3 separate regions of the Homo sapiens genome follow, and all the other regions are linked to region 3. The links come from fine-mapping of genetic effects on gene expression. A gene starts in region 3. Each other region holds a variant in brackets. All regions are shown on one strand. Distances are between the middles of the regions. Region 1 overlaps ZDHHC11B (zDHHC palmitoyltransferase 11B (putative)). Region 2 holds the start of ZDHHC11 (zDHHC palmitoyltransferase 11). Region 3 holds the start of TPPP (tubulin polymerization promoting protein).

Region 1 (8,000 bases), 74 kb before region 3:
TCTGGTAATTTCTCAGCTGCTCCTCCTGTCCAGCGACCCCTGCTGCAGAGGCCCAGGGGAAACACAGGCCAGGCCTGTGAGAAGCTCCTGTTTCAAAGAAATGTTGTCAGCGATAAAACTGGAAACGGTTCCTGGCTCGACACCTGACCCAGCCTTTCCACCCCCAGGATCCTGCCCCCAGACGGCCCTTCCACCCCCAGGATCCTGCCCCCACCAGGATCCTGCCCCCACGCGGTCCTGCCCCCATGAGACCCTGCCCCCATGCGGCCCAGCCCCCACCAGGATCCTGCCCCTGCATCCTCCGCTGGGTTGGCATCTGCATTTTTGGTGTCTTCCAGGGAAAGGGGTGAGTGGGTGGGGCCTGAGGCCCTTAAGGTCTTCAGTGTAGGGAGTGCCCCTGGATTTTTTTCCGGCTGTTTTGGGGGAATTTGTGGGATCTCAAGTTCAGCAGGGGCCACACTCAGGACCCCCACGATGACAGAGCCACACTTTGGCCATGACTGGCGCTGAGAACTCCAGATCTGAGAGGGCTTCGTGAGTCCCAGGGTTGGGACACGCACATGTGTCCTCGGCACGGACCCTCCCACCGGCTCTTGTGTCTGTGGGCAGAGGCCATGTTCAGCTCTCAGTGCAGTGCTGACGGCCCACCTGGTGTCCAGGCCCCTTTGGGAAGCAGCTTTCATGCCCTGAGTCCAGCACCTCAGCCTTGAGTCCTTCAGGGCCTGACTGGGTCTTACCGAAGCCCATGCATGGTAGGGAGGTGGCCTCGGCAGCCCTGCCCTGTGGCGTAGCCCTGCGTCCCCAAGCCCTGCCTGGGTGGCACCCCTCAATCTTAGCCCCACAGCCCAGCCACCTGCTCTGGGGGCGGGCGCCTTACCAAGTCCAGAGGGCATCCCTGCACCCTGACACCGGTGCCCCCAGCACTGCCTCAGCCCTGCACACTGGCAGTCCCCTCCCCTGGCTGGGGCCAGGCCCAGGGCTCCTGGGAAGAGCATCCTGAGGCACCCCCAGGGCCACCACACACCCTCCCCAGCCTAAAGCTCCATCTAAGGTCAGAGGCTCTGCAGTGGGGAGGGAGCGGCTGTCGCACGACTGCTGTGGACCTTCCCAGAGGAAGGCAGCACGTCACAGACCCTGGGGAGTGCGTGATCCCGAGGTGTCCTCCAGAGCTGCAGAGCGGGCGTCCACAGGAGGGACAGTGGAACTGCGGCGGGGAGGGGACCCGGAATAGGCTCTGATGCTGCCAGTCACACACTGAGCCTCCTAGGCCTGGAGCCCCTGGCACCCAGCTCAGCTCCCACCCTGGGCTCTGCGTGCTGCTGGCTTTATTTGGCTTAGGGGGTCCTTGGCCCAATGATGGCAGTGGGCAAGGCCTCGCTTGGCTCCACTCTGCCCGGGGCTGGACATGCGTGCCTGCGGGGCAGCTGGCTCCAAGGGTCTGAGGGGCCTCACGCCCAGCCCCAGGAGGGCCTGCCCATCTCAGCCCTCGCCACGTCCTGGTGCTCATTGGTATGGCGGGGTTTCCTGGGCTGCACCCGGCTCAGCTGGGACATGGCCCGGGTGACACCTTTCTCCTCTCCTTCCTCCATAGCAACATGGCTGACAAGGCCAAGCCTGCCAAAGCTGCCAACAGGACGCCCCCCAAGTCCCCGGGGGACCCCTCGAAGGACTGGGCAGCCAAGAAGCTGTCGCTGGAGTTGGAGGACATGTGCACCGAGTGGTGTGGACGGCCGTCTCGCGGGGCTGTGGTGCTGGTCAGACCTCGGTCAGGGCTCCTTGGGAGCAGCGGGACTCGAGCCACGTTCCTGAAAAGCTGCCGAGAGGCCTTTAAGGCCAAACCTCACTAGCATCAGGAAGGGTTCACATCCCGAGCTCAGTCTTCAGCAAAGACCAGAGTGCTGGCCCACCCTGCTCCTTGAATCTGGAAAGCAGTCTTAGAAAAAGAAGAGCTGTTAGATGATTATGTCCAGGACAGTGTTGAAGGATGGCGCGCACTAGGCCTGTCCAGCCCGTCAGGGGCACTTTGTTGGCCTGGAAGTAATTAAGAGGCTTGTCCTTTGAACGAAAGTGTGATCACTTGGGTTTGAAACGCACTCGCGGGCTCGCGTGAGGAACGTGCAGCCTGGCACGGGTTGCCTCTAGATTCCTGCTTCCCTCGCTCTCACCCGCATGCCTGCTGGTGGTCTTTCACCCAGCTCCACCATGCCAGCGTGGTTTTCTCCAGTGTGTGAAGGATAGAAACGGGCTGATCTATATAATCTTCAGCTTATTTTCCTAAAGAGGATGGACCGTTGATCCATATTTAGCTTATGAGAGTGTTGAGACCGAGGCAGCGGTTGGGAACTGAGGAACTCCTGCTCTGATCCCATGAGTGGTGTGTGGGTGGTGACTTGAGCATGGCAGACATGCTGTCAGATGCACGCGCTCCAGGTACACGCCACCGTTTCGCTGTTAGAACACGCAGGACAAGATTTCTTCTTGGAGTTGTTGAGTGATCCATTTGAAAATGTTCTCAAAGTATTGCTGGTGTGGTGGCCAAAGATGTGGTATTTTTTATTGTGTTGACTTTGGGGTGATAAAGAAATGAAATTGAAATGCAGTTAGTTTTGAGAATGGTAGTTGGCTTTTGCAAATTTGTTTTCAGGTGATCATTATAAAATCCCCCCACCCGCACCAATCACATCCACTGTGATGTGGAGAAAGGGCTCATGGCACTGCACTGGGGCACCGCGTTGGGGTCACACCTGCCACTCACGGCCCGCCATGTCCGTGTTGCAGAGGAGGAGACCCACCCGGTGGACTTGAGCTCGCTCTCCAGTAAGCTACTCCCAGGCTTCACCACGCTGGGCTTCAAAGACGAGAGAAGAAACAAAGGTAAATCCATAGTCCCGTCCCAGGAGCCAGCCGGAGCAGGGAAGGTGGCAGGGGTTTAGTGGAGTGATGGCAAATGCTGCTGATTCGTACTTCAGAGTTTCCTCACTGTACCTGGATTCATGTTTTCACATGGGTAAGATTGAGATCAGTTACAGTGACAGGAATGAAACTCGTGTTGGATGGGGACACACACAGCGGGCACCTTGGTTGCATCACTGGACTTCACCTTGGTCAGTGTTTTGGGGTCCTTGTGTTTCTGTCCCTGTCGCATTACAGAACATCCCTTCAGGGGTCAGAATGTGTGGCCCCTGGGCCTTGGGTCTGGCCTGTGTGTTCTCTCCATCTGCACTGCTGCCTCCTGGCTGCGCTGCTGCTGGGACCTCCTGCATGGCCCCACCCTCCACTTCTCCACCTCTGCTGGGTCCCTCCCATGCAGACAGCTGCATGGACACTGCTCCTGCCGGCCCTTTCTGCCTCAGCCACTCACACCATCTGCTAATGGGACAGCTCACTCTTCCCTCCAAACCATGGCCTTGGCTCAAGAGCTTCCTTGTTTCTGGAATGTTCTTTCCTCCAGCTCCAGGTGTTGAAATTCTGCCTGGTCTGGGTCTCCTGTTGAAGGACGCCCTCCACTGGGAAGGATCCTCTTGCCTTCACCACTTGTCTTCACCAGCCCCTGCTCCCCTCTTCCTCTTGGGGCTGTTGTGGTTGTTGATACTTTTTTTTTGTTGTGTTTGACACACATCTTCTTCTCACCCTCTAACACAGTTCTCAACCACAGCACTTTTGTCCCTGGAGATGTTGGCAGTGTCCAGAGGCGTGTTGATGGTCCCACTGGGGTTGGGGGTGCTGCTGGCACCAGATGGTAGGGAGATGCCAGGGGTGCTGCTCCACACCCTATGGGACACTGCACAGTACACCTGGCCTGTGTCCCCCACAGCGAGAGCTGGCCCTGGGCAGGCGTGGTCCCTGCGGTGTGTGTTGGTTGGGATCCTCCACAGTGACAGACGGTGCGCTCTGCCCACGTTTCCACACAGCTCTTTTGCTTGTGGAGCTCACCCCTTTGCAGAGAGCTCATTTCCCTGCGGTCTTTGGCCTGCAGAAGTAAAATGAGGGGTGGTGAATTACACCCCTGCTGGTTACACATGGAAAACTCAGGAGTGAGAATTTTGTGGAGAGCAAGAGAGGTGAGACTGGGGTGCTGGCTGCCAGCCAGGCGGTCCCTCAGCCCCTGGAGAAGCGGGGTGGGGCCTGCACACCGAGTCCTTCCAGTGAGTCCAGTGATGCTCTCTTTCTCCTCTTCCTCCCAGTCACCTTTCTCTCCAGTGCCACTACTGCGCTTTCGATGCAGAATAATTCAGCATTTGGCGACTTGAAGTCGGACGAGTTGGAGCTGCTCTACTCAGCCTACGGAGATGAGACAGGCGTGCAGTGTGCGCCGAGGCAGGTGTTGGCCCCGGGGAGCCCTTGGCTGCTGTCCAGCTTCAGCTGCGCCCTGGTGTGGGACCCGGAGCCCCACATGTGTGTGGGTGGGGAGAGGGCCATCCCGCAGCCGTCCAGATGGCAGCTCAGGTCTTCCCGTTGCTTTCAGTCATCCACCCAGGTCTGCCACAGGCCAGGTCCTCTGCCCAGGGTCCTCCACACCCTGGAGAGCCATTTTCTGTTGCCACTCGGCTCTGGCCAGGGTCAGATTCTGCAGCATGTCTGTTCATTCCCCTGGACAGGGCCCTGCACCGACTCCAGCCCAACCCCTGCTCCCTCTGCGGGGAACGTGGCCCCAGGCAATGCTGGGCCATTGGCTGTCAGTGCTGGTCCTGGGGGCCATGTTCCCAGTCCCCGTGGTCTCCCTGACAGTGGGTGGGGCC[G/A]GCCCTCCCCGGAGCTGATGGCGCAGGTCCTCCCCTTCTGTGTCCTGCAGATGGACACCCGCTCCGGGAGCCAGTGTTCCGTCACCCCAGAAGCCATACGCAACAATGAAGAGCTGGTCTTGCCGCCCCGCATCTCCAGAGTGAACGGCTGGTCGTTACCCCTGCACTACTTCCGGGTGGTGACTTGGGCTGTCTTCGTTGGCCTTTCCTTGGCCACCTTCAGGATCTTCATTCCCCTCCTGCCTCACTCGTGGAAATACATCGCCTATGTGGTATCCTTTTCATCGTGGCATGGTCTAAGCGGGAGGGGTTCCTGGAGGACCCTGCGATGGACCTGGCTGTGGGGTCTGGGCCATGGCTGCCCGGTGGCACCAGTCACCTGTCCTGGGCCAGACTATGTCCCCCGAGCCTGCAGGTGGGCCCAGTGGCCATTCGTGCTCTGTGCAGCCCCTGCTCAGGGTCAGGACAGCTGCTGACCCCACATCAGGCCATTCCTGCGTGGCCCATCGTCGGGTGGACAGAGCAGCCACTGACCCTATGTCAGACCGCTCCCACATGGCTCAGGGTCAGGTTGGACAGGGCAGCCGCTGACCCCATGTCAGGCCGTCTGCTCCCATCTCCCAGCAGGTGGGGGACCTGGTTCTGCTCCCATCTTCCAGCGGCAGGGGTCCCGGGTCTGCTCCCGTCTCCCAAAGAGGGGGAAGCCCGTGTCTGCTCCTGTCTCCCAGTGGGTAGGGGACCTGCATCTGCTCTCACCTCCCATCAGGCGGGGACTCATGTCTGCTCCCATCATCTTCCAGCGGGTGGGAGCCTGTGTCTGCTCGCATCTCCCAGGGTGCATGTCCATGGGGCATGTGGGCTCTGCACTACCTCCAGCTGACCATGGCATTCAGTTGAGAAACCCCAGGCCCCCTAGGGTCACTGAGACATGGATGTGTGGGGACAAAGGGGCCTGGGGAACAGTTGGCCTGCGTTCGGTGCCTTGGGGCACTGGAACCATATTTCTGAAAGTAGGATGTGTTATTTCTCACTAGAGCCTTCCTCAGTGGGGAAGTGGTGACACTGTGTCCGGAACTGGTGGGTTCTTGGTCTCACCAACTTCAAGAATGAAGCCGCAGACCCTCGCGGTGAGTGTTACAGTTCTTAAAGGCGGCGTGTCTGGAGTTTGTTCCTTCTGATGTTTGGATGTGTTCAGAATTTCTTCCTTCTGGTGGTTTGGGGTATCCCTGGTTCAGGAATGAAGCTGCAGACCTTCACTGCGAGTGTTAGAGCTCATAAAGGCAGTGCGGAGCCAAAGAGTGAGCAGCAGCAAGATGTATTGCAAAGAGCAAAAGAACAAAACTTCCACAATGTGGAAGAGAACCCAAGCAGTTTGCTGCTACTGGCTTGAGCAGCCTGCTTTTATTCCCTTATCTGGCCCCACCCACATCCTGCTGATTGGTTCATTTTACAGAGAGCTGATTGGTCTGTTTTACAGAGAGCTGATTGGTCCGTTTTGACAGGGTGCTGATTGGTGTGTTTACAACCCCTAAGCTAGACACAAAAGTTCTCCAAGTCCCCACAGAGCACTGATTGGTGCATTTACAAACCTTGAGCTAGACACAGAGTGCTGATTGGTGTATTTACAATCCCTTAGCTAGACATAAAGATTCTCCAAGTCCCCACCAGATTAGCTAGATACAGAGTGCTGATTGGTGCATTTACAAACCTCGAGCTAGACATAGGGTGCTGATTGGTGTATTTACAATCCCTTAGCTAGACATAAAGATTCTCCAAGTCCCCACCAGATTAGCTAGATACAGAGTGCTGATTGGTGCATTTACAAACTTCGAGCTAGACATAGGGTGCTGATTGGTGTATTTACAGTCCCTTAGCTAGACATAAAGGTTCTCCAAGTCCCCACCAGATTAGCTAGATACAGAGTGCTGATTGGTGCATTTACAAACTTCGAGCTAGACATAGGGTGCTGATTGGTGTATTTACAGTCCCTTAGCTAGACATAAAGGTTCTCCAAGTCCCCACCAGATTAGCTAGATACAGAGTGCTGATTGGTGCATTTACAAACTTCGAGCTAGACATAGGGTGCTGATTGGTGTATTTACAGTCCCTTAGCTAGACATAAAGGTTCTCCAAGTCCCCACTAGACTCAGGAGCCCAGCTGGCTTCACCTAGTGGCTCCCACACCGGGGGCAGGTGGAGCTGCCTGCCAGTCCCGTGCCATGTGCCCGCACTCCTCAGCCCTTGGGTGGTGGATGGGACCGGGTGCCGCAGAGCAGGGGACGGTGCTCACTGGGGAGGCTCGGGCTGCGCAGGAGCCCATGGCAGCGGGGAGGCTCAGGCATGGCGGGCTGCAGGTCCTGAGCCCTGCCCCGCAGGGAGGCAGCTGAGGCCCAGTGAGAATTGAGCACAGCTACAGCAGACCAGCACTCCTGGGGGACCTGGCGCACCCTCCACAGCTGCTGGCCTAGGTGCTAAGCCCCTCACTGCCCGGGGCCGGCAGTGCCGGCCGGCTGCTCTGAGTGCAGGGCCCGCTGAGCCCATGCCCACCCCGAACTAGTGCTGGGTTCCCGCCTGTGCCTCTCCCTTCATACCTCCCCACAAGCCGAGGGAGCCGGCTCTGGCCTCGGCCAGCCCAGAGAGGGACTCCCACAGTGCAGCAGTGGGCTGAAGGGCCCCTCGAGTGTGGCCAGAGTGGGCACCGAGGCCGAGGAGGTGCCGAGAGTGAGCGAGGGCTGCCAGGGCTGCCAGCGTGCTGTCACCTCTCAACACCACTGCGTGGTCCTTGGGCTGGGCCATCCCGGGCAAGTCTCTGGTAAATGGTGAGCGTGGTGTGTATCGCTGTGGTGCAGGCAGGGAGGTGTAGGGGCTGGATGCAGAGTGAGCAGGTGCCATGAGGACAGCAGCCTGCCAGCCTGAGTGCCTCAGCCATGGGCAAGGCCATGTCTCTCTTTCCTGAAACTTGTTCCTGTGGCGTCTTTCAGTTTATAGAGGTAGAGAGTACAGTCAAGCGGACCCGCAGGTGCCAGTCACCTGCTTCAACAGTGAAGCTTTTGCTAACCTTGTTTTATATCTCACATGCATGTGTATCCGAGTAACCTTTAAAAATCTCGGACATCGGGAAATTTCACCTGTAAATGCTCCAGTTTGTGTCTAACAAACTTTTATTTTTATAACACCATGCTTTATCTCACTTAAAAATATCTCACTTAAAAATTATATAGCCATTTCTTAACATCCTGTATTCGTTCTTATCCATGTGGC
Region 2 (8,000 bases), 160 kb before region 3:
TGTCTCCCCAGCTCACTGTCCTCTGTGGGGTCTGTCTCCCTGGCTCACTGTCCTACATGGGGTCTGTCCCCGTGGCTCGCTGTCCTCTGTGGGGTCTGTCCCCCTGGCTTGCTGTCCTCTGTGGGGTCTGTCCCCGTGGCTTGCTGTCCACTGTGGGGTCTGTCCCCCGGGCTTGCTGTCCTCTGTGGGGTCTGTCCCCGCTGCTCACTGTCCTCTGTGGGATCTGTCTCCCCAGCTCGCTGTCCTCTGTGGGGTCTGTGCTCCTCGCTCGCTGTCCTCTGTGGGGTCTGTGCCCCCTGGCTCACTGTCCTCTGTGGGGTCTGTCCCCGCTGCTCACTGTCCTCTGTGGGGTCTGTCCCCCTGGCTCGCTGTCCTCCGTGGGGTCTGTACCCCCGACTCGCTGTCCTCTGCGGGGTCTGTGCCCGACTCGCTGTCCTCGGTGGGGTCTATCCCTGCTGCTCACTGTCCTCTGTGGGGTCTGTGCCCGCTGCTCACTGTCCTCCGTGGGGTCCGTGCCCCCCGGCTCGCTGTCCTCTGTGGAGTCTCTGCCCCCTGGCTCGCTGTCCTCTGTGGGGTCTGTCTCCCTGGCTCGCTGTCCTCCGTGGGGTCTGTCCCCGCTGCTAATTGTCCTCCGTGGGGCCTGTGTCCCCTGGCTCGCTGTCCTCCATGGGGTCTGTCCACCTGGCTCGCTGTCCTCCGTGGGGTCTGTGCCCGCTGCTCGCTGTCCTCCATGGGGTCTGTCCCCCTGGCTCGCTGTCCTCCGTGGGGTCTTTCCCTGCTGCTTGCTGTCCTGCGTGGGGTCTGTCCCCTCGGCTCGCTGTCCTCCGCGGGGTCTGTCCCCGCTGCTCACTGTCCTCCGTGGGGTCTGTCCCCGCTGCTCGCTGTCCTCCGTGTGGTCTGTACCCCCGGCTCGCTGTCCTCCGTGGGGTCTGTCCCCGCTGCTTGCTGTCCTCCGTGGGGTCTCTTCCCCCGGCTCGCTGTCCTCCATGGGGTCTGTCCCCCGGTTTGCTGTCCTCTGTGGGGTCTGTCCCCGCTGCTCGCTGTCCTCCGTGTGGTCTGTCCCCCCGGCTCGCTGTCCTCCGTGGGGTCTGTCCCCCTTGCTCACTGTCCTCTGTGGAGTCTGTACCTCCAGCTTACTGTCCTCCGTGGCGTCTGTCCCCGCTGCTCATTGTCCTCCGTGGGGTCTGTCCCCCTGGCTCACTGTCCTCTGTGGAGTCTGTCCCCGCTGCTCGTTGTCCTCTGTGGGGTCTGTCTCCCTGGCTTGCTCACATTTTCTCTAATTTGGATGTATTACTTTTTCCAATCATCCTTTCCAGCTCTTGGTGCACAGTTTCGACCTGAAGTCTTCAGTCTTCTCAAAGTTCTTCAGTGTTTTCTTTTTTCTCTCACAGACTCTCCACCTTTCTGTTCTGAAATCCTGACAGATGAACGTGTTGTCTCCAGGCTCAAGGCTCAAGGCCGCTGAGCGATTCCCCTCTTCTCCTCTCTAAGATCTGTGGTCCTTCCTGGATTTGATATTCCAGGTTTTACCAATGTGACTTGGCGACATCATTTCTGTTTGTTGGCACTTTCATTTGGGTTTTGTTTTTAACTGGGAATTGTGTTTTTAATGTACAGGGTTGTCTTTCTGTGTTTCTATTTCCTTCCTTGGTAACTTTGACTTTTCTTTCTTTCTTTTTTTTTTTTTTGAGATGGAGTCTCCCTCTGTTGCCCAGGCTGGAATGCAGTGGTGCAATCTTGGCTCACTGCAGCCTCGACCTCCCAGGTTCAAACGATTCTCATGCCTCAGCCTCCCGAGTAGCTGGGATTAGAGGCATGTGCCACCATGCCCTGCTAATCTTTGTATTTTTAGTAGAGACAGGGTTTCGCCGTGTTGCCCAGGCTGGTCTGGAACTCCTGACCTCAGGTGATAGGCACGCCTCGGCTTCCCACAGTGCTGGGATTACAGGCGTGAGCCCCCGCGCCCGGCCAAAGAACCATGGTCCTGTTTCATAACTGTGAGTCTCTCGGGTCTCCCAGAGACATTCTTGTGTGACTCAAGCCCCAGGGTCCTGTGGCCCCGCATCCGCCTGGTGTCACATTTAGAGGACCAGGGAGGAGCCACCAAAGGCAGCGCAGAGCCACTGTATCATGGACGTTCACGACTGCAAGAACGAAGAATTGTTAACTATTTCTCAATGTCTCTCTTCTCAAAGAAATACATTTAATATCAACTTCATTTTCTGAAGGTTTTTTCCCAAAGAGACAACAAGGACTTTGAGCGAGGCATAACGTGGCGAAGCTTCCTAACCCTCCTCTGTAGAGACCGCCCAGCCCCTCAAGATCAACCCCCCACCCCGTAGCGGCCGTTGAGTGTCTTTCACTGCCGCTCTGTGACACCACGTCCCTCCCACCCCTGCCGCCCTCCCCACCTGACTGGCCAGGAGCAGCCGCAGCGTGTTCAGAACCTCCCAGCCACTGTCCACCCGGGCGGAGACCCCAGCCCCGCGTGGCTGGACGGGCTTCCCTGTCCTGTGGAAGGGGAGACACACAGGACCCTGTGAAGTGAGCTCTCGGGTCCTGCTCCTCTGGGAAGCTCAGAGAAGCCTCTCAGGGAGGATCTGGCAGGTTTCAGTGTTGCACCAGTGAGTAACGGCTCACGAGCTCTTCAGGCATTGCCTCAGTTTCTCACAGGCGCAGCCCTCTGCTCAGTGTGGCCTCTTTCTGACGTGGGTTTTCTTCTTGCACCTGGGGAGTCCTGGGTGGGCCTGTGTATTCGTGAACGGGTTGTGGGACCTGTCGCTGTGTGGGGGCTGTCGAGCACTCCCCAGAACGTAACAAATCCTCAGGGGAACTGATGGGCGGTCGCGCGGGCACTGGGTCCTCCACACCCTGGAGAGCCGTTTTCCGTTGCCACTCGGCTCTGGCCGGGGTCACATTCTGCAGCATGTCTGTTCATTCCCCTGGGCGGGGCCCTGCACCGACTCCAGCCCAGCCCCTGCTCCCTCTGCGGGGAACGTGGCCCCAGGCAGTGCTGGGCCATTGGCTGTCAGTGCTGGTCCTGGCGGCTGCATTCCCAGTCCCCTTGGTCTCTGTGACAGTGGGCGGGGCCGGCCCTCCCAGGATCTGACGGCGCAGGTCCTCCCCTTCTGTGTCCTGCAGATGGACACCCGCTCCGGGAGCCAGTGTTCCGTCACCCCAGAAGCCATACTCAATAATGAAAAGCTGGTCTTGCCGCCCCGCATCTCCAGAGTGAACGGCTGGTCGTTACCCCTGCACTACTTCCAGGTGGTGACCTGGGCTGTCTTCGTGGGCCTTTCCTCGGCCACCTTCGGGATCTTCATTCCCTTCCTGCCTCACGCGTGGAAATACATTGCCTACGTGGTATCCTTTTCATCGTGGCATGGTCTAAGCGGGAGGGGTTCCTGGAGGAACTTGCGATGGACCTGGCTGTGGGGTCTGGGCCATGGCTGCCCGGTGGCACCAGTCACCTGCCCTGGGCCAGACTATGTCCCCTGAGCCTGCAGGTGGGCCCAGTGGCCACTCATGCTCTGTGCAGCCCCTGCTTAGGGTCAGGACAGGACAGCGTTGGCTGAGGGGGCTCCGGAGAGGGAATCTGTCAGGAGGGACAGCAGCCCCCTGGCGTGGCGCAGGACCCGCCCTGCTGGCAGCCTTCCGCTAAAATCCCTGCGCAGCATTTTGCACATGGCCAGCACCTTTCTCCTTGCCCCTGGTGCCAAGGAGGAACAGCGCCATGCCCCGCAGGTCGGCAGCCTGCGTTTCCATGCCAAGCTTAGGCCACACTGCGAGGGCCTCTGGGCTGCCCTGCGGAGATGGCTGTCAACCCTGAACTCCTGGCTAGAAGGCGGTCCAGGGGCCAGGCAGGGTGACTGGAGGGCCCCGCACTCCACCCCTTCTATTTGGTTGCCATGGAGAGTCTGTGTTTGTCCCAGGGTGAGAGGAGGAGGGAGCCAGGATCTGAGGGCGGGAGCTGACGTCCCAGGCACGGGGAGCCCAGCTTCTCCTGGCTCCAGGGGACAAGGATCCTCTCCCCAGTGCCCCCGCAGCCAGGCTCTGAGCCCAGAGGGCCCAAGAAAGAGGCCCAGGGTCCCTGAGTGAGTCTGGGGTCCTCGAGAGAGTCTGGAGTCCCCGAGAGAGTCCGGAGGGGCCCTGAGGGAGTCTGAGGGGGGTTTCCCTGAGCTATTCTCGGGGAGAGGGTCCCTGAGTGAGCTGTCTGGGGTCTACAGGGAGCGGGTAGGTTGTGCAGCTCCCTC[G/C]CTCCTCCCCCTGCTCCTCCTGTCTGAGGCTGTCTTCTCTCCCAGTGCTCAGGGGTCTCTGGTATGAAAGAACCCAGGCTCCTCCAGGGCCTTTGGGGCTGCATCCGGCTGTGTTTATACCTGGGATGTCCCTCCTGTGGCCCTGCTCTGTCCCTCAAGCTGTAAAGGGTTTTGGGGTCACTGTGCTTGGCTGGGCTGACTGAGCCTCTGGGGGTGCGGTACATTCTGTGGGGGATTTGCCCTGTGTCCAACAGGGATGAACCAAAAGGGGCACGGGGGCAGCCTTCCCGGTCCCCGACTGGCACAGGGCTGTGTATGCAGGGCCAATGGGTAGCCTCATCTTCTCTAGGCCTGGGTAAGCAGGGCTGTGTGTGCAGGGCCGACGGGTGGACTCATCTCCTCTAGATCTGGGTGAGCAGGGCTGTGTGTGCAGGGCCATGTGTGAAGGGCCGGGTGTATAGGGCCGTGTGTGCAAGACTGGATGAGCAGGGCCATGTGAGCAGGGCCGGGCATGGGTGAGCTGGGCTCGGGTGAGCAGGGCTGGGTGTGCAGGGCTGGCTGTGCAGGGCTGGCTGTGCAGGGCTGGGTGTGCAGGCCCAGGTGAGCACGCCCAGGTGAGCAGGGCCAGGCGAACAGGGCTCAGTTGTGCAGGGCTGGGTGTGCAGGGCTGTGTGAGCAGGGCCAGGCCTGGGTGAGCTGGGCTCACGTGTGCAGGGCTGGGTGAGCAGGGCTGACCAGCGGCCACGCCTCTTCTGGGCCCTTGGGCCTCACGGGGACGCCTCGTGCCAGGCTGACCAGGCCCTGGGCCAGGTTCTTCCTTGACATGCCAGGTGACCGGGGGGATCTTCTCGTTCCACCTCGTCGTCCACCTGATCGCGTCCTGCATCGACCCGGCCGACTCCAATGTCAGACTCATGAAGAACTATTCTCAGCCCATGCCCCTCTTCGACAGATCAAAACATGCACACGTGATCCAGAATCAGTTCTGCCACCTGTGCAAGGTCACCGTGTGAGTGCCCGCCCTCGCCGAGGCCCCAAGGTGTCAGGGTCACCTCCAGGGTCCTGGTGCTCAGGTCACTGCTGGCCCCTCAGGGCCCGTGCCATGGCCGCAGCTGATGCTAGTGGAGCTTCCAGGGCCCGGCCCTGTGGCTGCGGGTGGATCGCCCCTCATCTCGCTGTGAACCGGGCGCGGTGCCGGGCCGCCCCAACTCCTCCGCAGGCAGGGCTGAGACTGGAGGGCTGGGTCTGTCACCTGCAGGTGACCCGCTGCTCCCCTGGAATGAAACACAGCAGCACTCAGGCATGTTTGGTCCTCAGTGGATTTTGTGCACGAGGTCCCTCCCCTGAGGGCCCAGGGCAAGAGAGCACTGTCTTTCTTGGGGAGTTTCAAGACAAGCCCCTAGGAAAGTGGGAGGTAAGGGTTCCAGTGTCTCCAGGGGCCCTGGAGGCCTCTGTGATGGCCTAGGGGTTGGCTACAGGGCTGTTGTCAGCTGCAAGGGAGGCCCTGTAGGCACAGGTGGGATCCAAGCCCCCGGCCTCAACTCCTGGAACCATGGGGCAGGCGCGGCCTCCTCCAGGGCCATGGCCCAGAGTGAGGCTGGTGTAGGACGGCTGGCGGGGGGTCTATGCTCAGGGCGGCCAAAGACACAGCTCCTCCTGCTCTGTGGCTACCTCTGCCCACAGCTGCCCTGCTTCTCCTCCTCCCCACAGGCCTCAACACCCTCCCCCAGCCTCCCATTCCCTGCTGGACGCCCTCTCCCCAGGCCGCACAGGGCTGGTTCCTCCGAGGCACCTGGCTTCCAGTGATGGACCTCTGGCCCTGCCCCAACCTGCGCACTTGGGGCCTGACAGGCGTTCCCCGATTCATCCCTCCAGGAACAAGAAAACCAAACACTGCATTTCCTGCAATAAGTGTGTGTCCGGCTTCGACCACCACTGCAAATGGATCAACAACTGCGTGGGAAGCCGGAATTATTGGTGAGGGGCACAGAGGGGATGGCCGGCACGGGCCAGGCTTGGGGGAATTTGGAAGGGAGGGGTCTGTGGGCAGGGGTCATCGTGTTGAAAGGGTGGAGGGTCCTCTTGGGGCCGCGTCCCTGTCCTGATGTGGTGGCGCTTGGTGCCTGCGTGCCCCGGCCTCCTGTCTGGCTCTGGGGCTGTGGTGCAGCCGTCCCTGGACAAGCTCATCCGCATAGAGTAAGTCCCTGGAGGCCCCCCGGGGGCACTTGCGGGGCCACGCTGGCTGAGGCCTCCTGACCACGCTGTCCTGGGCTGGGCTGCCTTCTCTCCACCCAGGCTGAGGCTCATCCAGCACAAGGGTGGGGCCACGGAAGGGCAGTGGGCACCCAGCGCAGATGGGCGAGAGGTGTTTCCCCTGAGCATGGTCGAGGCTCACAGATGAGAGGTGTTTCCCTGAGCACGGTGGAGGCTCATAGACGAGAGGTGTTTCCCCTGAGCACGGTGGAGATGCAAGGAAGAGAGATGTTTCCCTGAGCACGGTGGAGGCTTACAGATGAGAGGTGTTTCCACTGAGCATGGTGGAGGCTCACAGGCGAGAGGTCTTTCCCCTGAGCACGGTGGAGGCGCAAGGATGAGAGGTGTTTCCACTGAGGATGGTGGAGGTGCAAGAACGAGAGGTGTTTCCCCTGAGCACGGTGGAGGCTCACAGATGAGACGTGTTTCCCCTGAGCACGGTGGAGGCTCATAGACGAGAGGTGTTTCCCCTGAGCACGGTGGAGGCTCAAGAACGAGAGGTGTTTCCCCTGAGCATGGTGGAGGCTCAAGGACGAGAGGTGTTTCCCCTGAGCATGGTGGAGGCTCACAGGCGAGAGGTATTTCCCCTGAGCACGGTGGAGGCGCAAGGATGAGAGGTGTTTCCACTGAGGATGGTGGAGGTGCAAGAACGAGAGGTGTTTCCCCTGAGCACGGTGGAGACTCACAGATGAGACGTGTTTCCCCTGAGCACGGTGGAGGCTCAAGAACGAGAGGTTGTTTCCCCTGAGCACGGTGGAGGCTCATAGATGAGAGGTGTTTCCCCTGAGCACAGTGGAGGATCCAGGGACTCTCAAGGCCCCGTGTGCTGAGCCCCGGCTGTCTGCAGCACTGTATTGTGAAGATCACCAGGGAAAAGAACCACGCCTGCTCCCCAGCTACTCTGTGCTGACCTGAAAGAGGCCTTGGTGTGCGTGGGAGTGGGGACCAACGTTGCCTGGTGTCACAGGACGCACCGGGCGGTCCCTGCCCTGCCTCCCTGCCATCCCGTCTGGAGCACAGCATGTGTCCAGAGAGGCTGAGCAGCCCGGCAGGGACAGAGAGGTTGCATGACCGCACAGCGAGTCCAGAGGCTGCGTGAGATGGTAGGGGCCGGGGAGACCCACCGGCCTCCTCCCCTGGAGAAGAGCAGCTCCACGATGGCCAAGGTGGGGCCAGCTCCTCTGGCTCATGCTAGCCCCAGGTGCCACTTCCTTCTGGACTCATTCTGCTCTGGTGCCTCGAGCTGGCTCAATCTGGCGGGTCCTGGTGGGGAAGGTGAGGGGGTGAGGGCCCACAGGCAGGTGGCAAGGAGAGGGTCTGCCTTCCTCAGGAGGGGTGCTGGAGAGGGACCACGTGGGTGCCAAGTGTAGACACCGCCTGGGTGTGGGAAAGGGGCATCAGGAGAGCAGGGCCGGGGTCATGGGCGCCCTCAGCTCCAGGCAGCAGCCAACGCCGGCATCTGTGCCAACCTCGCTTCTGTCCCTTCATCCGCCA
Region 3 (8,000 bases):
TTGTTGCGCCTTTGTCTGGTTTTGGTCCGAGGGTGATACTGGCCTCATAGAATGAGTTAGAGAGATATCCCCCCTCTTCGATTTCTTGGAATAGTTTCAGAAGGATTGGTATTAGTTCTTCATATGTTTGGTAGAATCTGGCTGTGAATCCATCTAGTCCTGGGCTGAGTGCAGGGCATCCACACAACAAGTGAAGCCACTTCTGGCAGTGGGGAAAACAGTTACAGGGACAGAAGCTGACCAGGCTCCTTGTGGTCTGCTTGGAGCCATCTCGGCTTTACAGAGCTCATTGCCCACTGCCTCTGAAAGCCACACCCAGGGCTGCCCTTGCCAGAGGGGTGTGTCCTCTCCACTGCAGACACAAGTTCCTCCCTTCTCTGCGGCCCTCCGCTCTGCAACGCCATCCTCTCTCTGGTCCTCCGTGTCTCTGCCAGGCATGGGCTCCTGTCCACATCTTTTCTTCCCAGCACGCTGTCCTGTTGCCGTGTCCCCGCATCTTTCTTCCCTAACATCGGCTGTGGAACTGAGGTAGCGATGGCTGGCGTATTAAGAATGTGCTCCAAGCAGCTCAGCCTAGGGCTGAACACCCCCCATTTGGCTTCCCCTCCTCATCAGCCCCTGACCTGTGGCAACAGTGAAGCCGCAAGGCTCACCTGCCGTTCTCTGGGTCACAGGTGTGTGATAGGGGGGCCAGAGTCGCTCCCTGGCAGCAAGACCCGGAACCTGCACTTTAATTCCATGTTCCACAGCAATTCCACCCCCAGAATAACCAGATGCAATCACAGCCCAAACACACACAGGCACGTGCACACACACAGGTGCAAACACACACACATGCACACAAAGACACACAGGCCCATGCACACACAGGCACACGCAGGCACACAGACACATGCACACACATGCAAACACACAGACACAGGCACGTGGACATACAGGTGCAAACACACATGCACACACAGAGACACAGGCACACGCAGACACACTCATACACACAGAGACACACAAATAGACACACACACAGCTGAACATACACAGCTGAACACATACCAACATACATACACCGGCATGCATACTCACACATACAGGTGCACATTCACACATAGGAATGCACAAACACACGCATGCATGTGCACACTCTCACACTCTCACACACAGGTGCACACACACATCCCGGCAGACATTTTCCCTAAGCTGCCAAGGACCCATGGGAGCTGCTTCAACACCCCCATGAGGCTTCCCAGGCCCCACACCCAGGCAGGCACGTCGTTACTTCACTGACCACCCCCTCTGACCTCATGCACCTAGGCTGTAGCTTGTCCCCAGCCCAGGGCCCACACAGGAGCTGGTTAGGGTTCTCAAGGGGCCCTGACTGCTCACCTGCTGTGGGACACACCCCTACGGGGCCCAAAGAAGCTGCTCAGCCTATAGGCCGTCAAAGGACATTCAGCTGCCAGGGGTGGGTGGACACCTGACAGGTCCAGCTGCAGGACACCTCAGTGCTGGGACCCGGCATCCTCACACTTGGCCTCGGAGGCCTTTTCATGTCTGCTGCTGTCCGCGTGAGTCCATTGCTCCCCCCGCTCCCCGTGCCTCTGTCTTCAGCATGGGGCCTCCCAATGGACCTGGGCTCCTGTCCTGGTCTCCCACTGCAGACCCAGATGGCCCAGCATCTCCCACCATCCCTTCCACCCAGGGCTTCCAGTGCTACCCACCATGCTGTGTCTGCTCTTCCCAACCTCCACTGTCAGCCTGAACCTCTACCCACAAAACCCAACCCCAAACCCAGGCAGGGGTGGGCGCGGGTGCCAGGCAGCAGGGGCTTGTCCCGGAGAGCTGTCCTCCTCCTATGTGACAGCTGCCTGGCCTGGTGCTCCCAACTGCGGACGCAGAACCTGTGCAGGAAGCCGTGGAAACAGCTACAAGCAGGCAGGTGTCCCGGGGAACGCTCCTGGTCACTGACACGGTAACACAGGTGGAGCTGGGAAAAGCATTGGTGCTGGGGTGGTAGTGACCCCCACCCAAGAAAGTCACATTGACCCGGAACCTCAGAGTAAGACCTTACGTTAAAATAGGATCTTTGTAGATGTAATTCGATTAAAGATCTTGAGATTATCCCAGCTTCTCCTGGCGGCCCTTAAATCCAGTGACAGGTGTCCCGATAAGCAAAGGAAGAGACAGACACACTAACTCGGGGGAGGAGGCCCCGTGAGGACAGGGGCAGAGGTGGAGCCATGCGGCCACCACCCAGGACCGCCTGGAGCCACAGAAGCTGGAAGAGGTGGGAACCTCCGGAGCGCACAGGCCTTGATCTCGGACTTCTGGCCTCCTAAGCCGTAAGAGGAAAGCCCTGTTGTTCAACCCATTTGTAGTGATTTTCTAAGGATCCCCAGGAAACATCTTATAACGGGACACTTGGCGTGGATCACATCATTGGCTGTGAGTCGGTTTTCAGTAATTGCAGGGTTAATGGAGGCTGTCCAGGTCTGGCAGTGGAGCAAGAGCTGGGGGCCAGGAAGGGCCACCGGACGGGCAGCCATGGCCAGGTGAAGAGCCTGGAGTCCCGAATCAGGATCCACCTCTCCCTGCTGAGCAAGATCCTGTGCCCCTGTTTCTGGTGATTTTGTAAGTGCTGACTGAACCGACTGTCGCTGGGAAATAACACACCCGTGACCCCAAGCCAAAGTTTCACCCACAGACAAGGAAACAGACTCCATGAACACGCCGACTCCCGACGGTAGAACCGGGGTGCCCACCCCAGCCCCGGTCACTGTGTGTCCTGCGCAGGGGCCAGGGCAGCCCAAGGCTCAGCTCTGTCCTCCTGCCCAGACCTCGCTCAGCCCCCTGGACGCCGCCCCGCGCCCGCTGCCTCTCCTCTCCTCTCCTCCCAAAGGCTCCAGGACCATGTCTGCCTCTGAAGCCTGACGTTACCTCCCACTGCGATTTTATTGTAAACTCACTGCATTTATGTCAAGAGAGTTTGTACAGGTTTTGGAAAATGCACTGAAGAGTCCCCTTGTGCCTATTAGGACGGTAAGAACACACCAAGGAGAGATTATTTCATTATTTCTTTGATGCTGTTAGTAGGATCTACCCGAGGGGGAGGCACTCCGGGCTCCGCGGGACGAGAAGGCAGCCGAGCCCGCACCCGAGCAGGAGGGAAGCAGGAGCCGCAGCGTGGCCGCCGCACAGCTTCGGGGGTCCCCCGACTTCCCAGCTGCGAGTGTGGAATTTCTCAGGAGAACTAGACAGAAGCCCATCTCTGGGCAGCACTGAGTGGAAGGAGAAACCACAGGAGAGGAGAGGAAGTGTGGGGCGCGGGACCACCGTGGGGTGGGTGGGGGCCAAGCCGCCGGGCTGTGAGGCCTCAGCACCCCCTGCCCAGCACCCAGCACCCCAACTTCCCCTTCTGCCTTTGCGGATTCCAGGGCCTGCTGGACACCTGGTGCAGGGACAGAGCCGGGGCTGGGGGAGGAGCTCAGCTGCACTAGAGTCCAGCTGGAAGAGTCCAGCTGAAAGTCACCAGAGGCACCCCTTCCTCCTGGGGGGCTGCGCCTCGGCCTCCTCCAGGGCAGGTGCCCCTATGCCCCTCAAGTCCCAGCACCCAGCACCACAGAACCGCCCTGTCATCTCGGCCCCGGAACCTTGTGGGGAGCCAACTCCTGCGGAGGGCCGGGCAGCCCCGGGCGGAATGAGCCCCCTCCGCAAAGCCTGTCTGGGGAGCGGGGGAGGGGCGGCAGGTGCCCGGAGAAAGGCGAGATTGGAAGAGCGGCCGGGATGGTGGCGCTGCATACGGGCGACCTGCAGGGAGAACGGAAGCTGAGGCCGGGGTCAGGGGTGCGCGCTCCGCTCCTCCACTCCTGCGTGAAGGGCGGCCCACTCCCGAGCAGCTGCGCTGGGCGCCCGGCACGGACCCGTCTCCCTGCTCAGGTCGATCCCCGGCCGCGCTGCCCCCACCTGGAAGCCCAGTCCCCTGGGTGCGCCCCGCCTTGGGGTCCGAGCACCCTCACAGCCCGGCCCTGCCGCTTCCCTGCACCGTCTGCGGCTCCTTAAAGAACTGGGCGCGGTCGGGGCTCGCCCCGCACCGTCCTCGAGGCCCCGCCGCCAACCCACCCCACCCCAGGAGGCCGCGGCCGCGCTCATCCATCCCCCGCCGCACCGTCAACGCGCGTCCTGCGGGGCGGAGAGATCGGGGTCCGGTCGTCCCCGGGGGGCCCCAGAGCCAGGTGAGGGGCCCCGCCGCCCCCTGCCCAGCGGTTCCCACGACCCGCGGGTCGGCCGCGCCCTGCGCTGAGCGGATACCCGGCGGTCCGCGGGGCCTGAGCAGAGTCGGCCTTGTAAGGCAGAGGTCTCGGTGCGCCCGCGCGTCCCCGGGCCGGGTGGGGCGGCGGGGGCGGGGCTGCCAATGAGCGCGCGGGGCGGGACGCTGGGCGGGCGCCGGACGCTGGGGGCCGGGGGCGGGCCCGGGACCGGGCTGGGCGGGGCTGGGCGGTGCTGGGCGGGACGGGCGGGCGCGGGGCGGCGGCTGGAGAGCTCCGCTGAGCACCGGGTCGCGCGCGGCCGAGTCGCGGAGGCGCCTCCGCTGCAGTCGCTGCGTCTCCAAGGTAAGCGGGCGCGGGGCTCGGTCCCGCGGGCGCGGCGCGGGGGGCACCCGGGGGCGGAGACTGGGCCCGTCAGCCCCAGCAGCCACCTGCGCCGCAGCCCCTGCCCCCCGCGCTCCCCCGAGCCCCCTTCCCGGACCGCCCCGCGCGTCCCTGAGCCCCCGGATTGGGATGCCCGGAGTTCGGCGCTGCGGGCTCGGTGCGAGGACGCGACGGGGAGGCTTTGCAAAGGCCGCGAGCGGGGGTCACCGTCGGCCGCGCCAGGGACAGGTCTGTCACCGTCTCCGGGCCCTGTGCCTGGCGCTTTGGCCTTTCTTCGCGGCCACGGACGCCCCTGCAGCCCTTCCCTCCAGACCCTCCCCAGCTCGGGACTCGAACCGTTTCCCTATTCCCAGGCCTAGGGGGCCGCCGGTGTGAGGCGTGGGAAATTAGGGCGTGGAGGGCTGGAATGAAGTCACTGCCCGCAGCAGGTTTTGAGAGATCCCTGGCCACAGAAACGGCCCATCTCAGGGTCCTGACACCACCGCGTCCTGGCAGGTGGGGCTGTCAGACCGCCCCCCGCAGAGCCTCCAGCTGCCCCGGGTCTTGGCTACTGTCCGCGGGCCTGTGGCGATGGAGAGGCGCTGCCGGGACACCTTCCCGCACCCCTGGGAGCAGCGCCCGAAGATCTGAGGAGCCCTTTATTCTGCGGTTTCGGTTACGTAAACGGAGCCGAGGGAGGTGAGAAGCCTGTCCCTCCCGGGCAGTGGCGGGGCTGCTGTTTTGATAAGGGTTTTGGGGGGGCTGTTGTCTTGATGGGGGTTTGGGGGGCTGCTGTTTTGATAGGGGTTGGGAGGCTGCTATTTTGATACGGGGTTGGGGGCTGCTGTTTTGATAGGGGTTTGGGGGGCTGCTGTTTTGATAGGGGGTTGGAGGGCTGCTGTTTTGATAGGGTTGGGGGACTGCTGTTTTGATAGGGGGTTGGGAGCTGCAGTTTTGATAGGGGTTTGGGGGCTGCTGTTTTGATAGGGGGTTGGGAGGCTGCTGTTTTGATAGGTGGTTGGGAGGCTACTGTTTTGATAGGGGGTTGGGGGGCTGCTGTTTTGATAGGGGTTGGGGGCTGCTGTTTTGATAGGTGGTTGGGGGCTGCTGTTTTGATGGGGTCTGGGGGGCTGCTGTTTTGATGTGGGGTTGGGAGGCTGCTGTCTTGATGGGGGCTTAGGGGGGCTGCTGTTTTGATAGGGGGTTGGGGGCTGCTGTTTTGATAGGGGTTGGGAGGCTGCTGTTTTGATAGGGGTTGGGGGGCTGCTGTTTTGATGGGGTCTGGGGGCTGCTGTTTTGATGAGGGGTTGGGGGCTGCTGTTTTGATACGGGTTGGGGGGGCTGTTGTCTTGATGGGGGTTTGGGGGGCTGCTGTTTTGATGGGGGTTTAGGGGGCTGCTGTTTTGATGGGGGTTGAGGGCTGCTGTTTTGATGGGGGTTGAGGGCTGCTGTTTTGATGAGGGTTGGGGGCTGTTTTGATGGGTATTTGGGGGCTGCTGTTTTGATGGGGGTTGGGGGCTGCTGTTTTGATGGGGGTTGGGGGCTATTGTTTTGATGGGGTTTGGGGGGCTGCTGTTTTGATGGGTATTTGGGGGCTGCTGTTTTGATGGGGGTTGGGGGCTGCTGTTTTGATGGGGTTTGGGGGCTGCTGTTTTGATGGGGGTTGGGGGCTATTGTTTTGATGGGGGTTGGGGGGCTGCTGTTTTGATGGGGTGTTGCGTTCCCTCTCAGTGTCACCGCTGATCCACCTGGCATGTTTATTGGCTCTTCTGCTTGCAGGGCCCCTGGGGGACCGATAGAGGACTGGGCCCCTCCGCCCACCCCGGCCACCCCTCCCCGCCTGACTTCTCAGGGGGAGAGGTCTCCCCCCACGCCCAGCCAGCCCCTGCCCCTGGGAGGTGACCCAGCTCCCTGTGGCCTGGGACTAGGAGATGGGGCTGGACCAAGGCCGGGAAGGGGCAGGAAGTGGAGGGGAGTGAGGCAGCTGCAGCCTGATGCCGCCGCCTTGAACTGGGCTCTCGCGCCTGTCAGCCGCTCGGTGCCAGCGCCTCCCCACCACGTGATCCTCGGAGGGCCTGTGGGGGAGGGGCGGGCTCCCGGAGCGGCTGCAGAAGGCGAGCTCCAGGAGGGTGTGTGCGTTTTCCCGGGAGGGGTCTGCAGCTTTCATGGTTTCTAAACGGATCTCTGATTCAGAAAGGCGCCGGCATGAACTCGCTTTGCATCTTCACAAAACATGAAGTCATGGGGATTGGACCGCGTGTGCGTGGAGGAAGCTCCGCTGGTCACTGGCTGCGTTTTAATCTTACAGCTGCGGTTGGTCTATCTTCCCGAATTCCCTGAAGTTGCAATAAATGTTTTAGCGATTATACGAGGTTATAAATGCTCGTTGTGGAAATGAGCATAGAATGCTCACAGAAATGGTCAACAGGGGCTTCCTTTTGACCCCCTACCCTAATTTGCAAGCCTCACACTGGCAGTGGCTGCCCTAGGCCTGGGAATCGGTAAACAGGGTTCGTGCACCGGGCTGGGCAGGGCCCGGAGGGAGGGGCCGCAGGGGGCTTCCGTGGGCACAAAGGCCAAAGCGCCACACGCAGGGCTCAGGAGAACTTCCTGAAGAAAATTAGGATCACCCATCGCAGATGGAGACTGGGGAGCTCTCTGGAGAGTCAGGCAGTCTGTTCCCTCCCAGGCCTGTGGGAGCCACCCCCTGCAGAGGACGCAGAGAATTAAAAGCTTCCTCGGGAGAGGCCGTGCCAGCAGAGAGCCGAGTCTATTTATAGCTGTTGGTGAGACAGGGGGAGTGTGTGAGAGGGATGCCATCTGGGGCTCTTGGGGCCCCCAGGCCAGTGCTGGTCAGCGCCCTGCAGTACCTGGCCCAGCCTGGTGCCCTCAGGCAGAAGCGCCTTCGGGAAAACACTCTGGGTGAGGAGAGTCGCTCAATGCCTCCGCCTGGGCTGGGGGAGCCAGAAGGCTATGCCCAGGAGGGTTGTGGCCGGGTGTCTAGTCCATCTGAGCCCACAAACCCTCAGCCAGGAGCCAGGATCAGGCAGCAGAATCTACACACGCCTAGTTCCTACTGCTCGAGCAAAAGGTGTTTCCTGGGAAGGAAGGGGTGGAGCTGCCTGGGTCAGGCCCAGCCACATCTGGGGCTCAGGCCTTGTCCCCAGCATCCACGAGCCAAACCCCAAGCTGCCCTGCGTGGATCCTCCTCCTAGGGAGACCAGCTTCTTCTTGGTGTGTGTGTGTTTGGGGTTGCCACAGGGCCATAACCCACTGCATCCCCCTGATAAGATCTTCCACCCAGGGCAGCCCCCACCCAGGGCAGCCCCCACCCAGTTGATCCCCCACCCAGATGATCCTCCACCCAGATGATCCCCC

What was found. PIP is the estimated chance that this variant, and not a neighbour inherited with it, causes the effect. A credible set is the group of variants that fine-mapping cannot tell apart.
Region 1: its variant is the best candidate, but not a certain one, in a credible set for the expression of TPPP in sun-exposed skin (GTEx, PIP 0.77).
Region 2: its variant is the best candidate, but not a certain one, in a credible set for the expression of TPPP in whole blood (TOPMed, PIP 0.51).

What each region holds. Positions count from the first base shown.
Region 1 is chr5:763,709-771,708 of GRCh38, reverse strand. It overlaps ZDHHC11B (zDHHC palmitoyltransferase 11B (putative)), which reads left to right. Exons shown (of 14, transcript NM_001351303.2): 2 at 2,779-2,874; 3 at 4,185-4,317; 4 at 4,790-5,011. The coding sequence starts at 4,790. It also overlaps the pseudogene BRD9P2. Among named protein-coding and RNA genes, the nearest start is that of ZDHHC11B, 17 kb to the left of the region's middle. The variant G/A (reference allele first, on the strand shown) is at 4,740.
Region 2 is chr5:845,744-853,743 of GRCh38, reverse strand. ZDHHC11 (zDHHC palmitoyltransferase 11) reads left to right here and starts at 2,758. Exons shown (of 13, transcript NM_024786.3): 1 at 2,758-3,363; 2 at 5,084-5,262; 3 at 6,129-6,230. The coding sequence starts at 3,142. RefSeq lists enhancers at 2,765-3,414, 3,415-4,066, 6,967-7,116. The variant G/C (reference allele first, on the strand shown) is at 4,254.
Region 3 is chr5:689,882-697,881 of GRCh38, reverse strand. TPPP (tubulin polymerization promoting protein) reads left to right here and starts at 4,530. Exons shown (of 4, transcript NM_007030.3): 1 at 4,530-4,604. LOC101929898 (a long non-coding RNA gene) reads right to left here and starts at 4,342. Exons shown (of 2, transcript XR_925675.4): 1 at 4,160-4,342; 2 at 1-3,801. RefSeq lists enhancers at 2,730-3,608, 4,522-5,104 and a silencer at 4,278-4,527.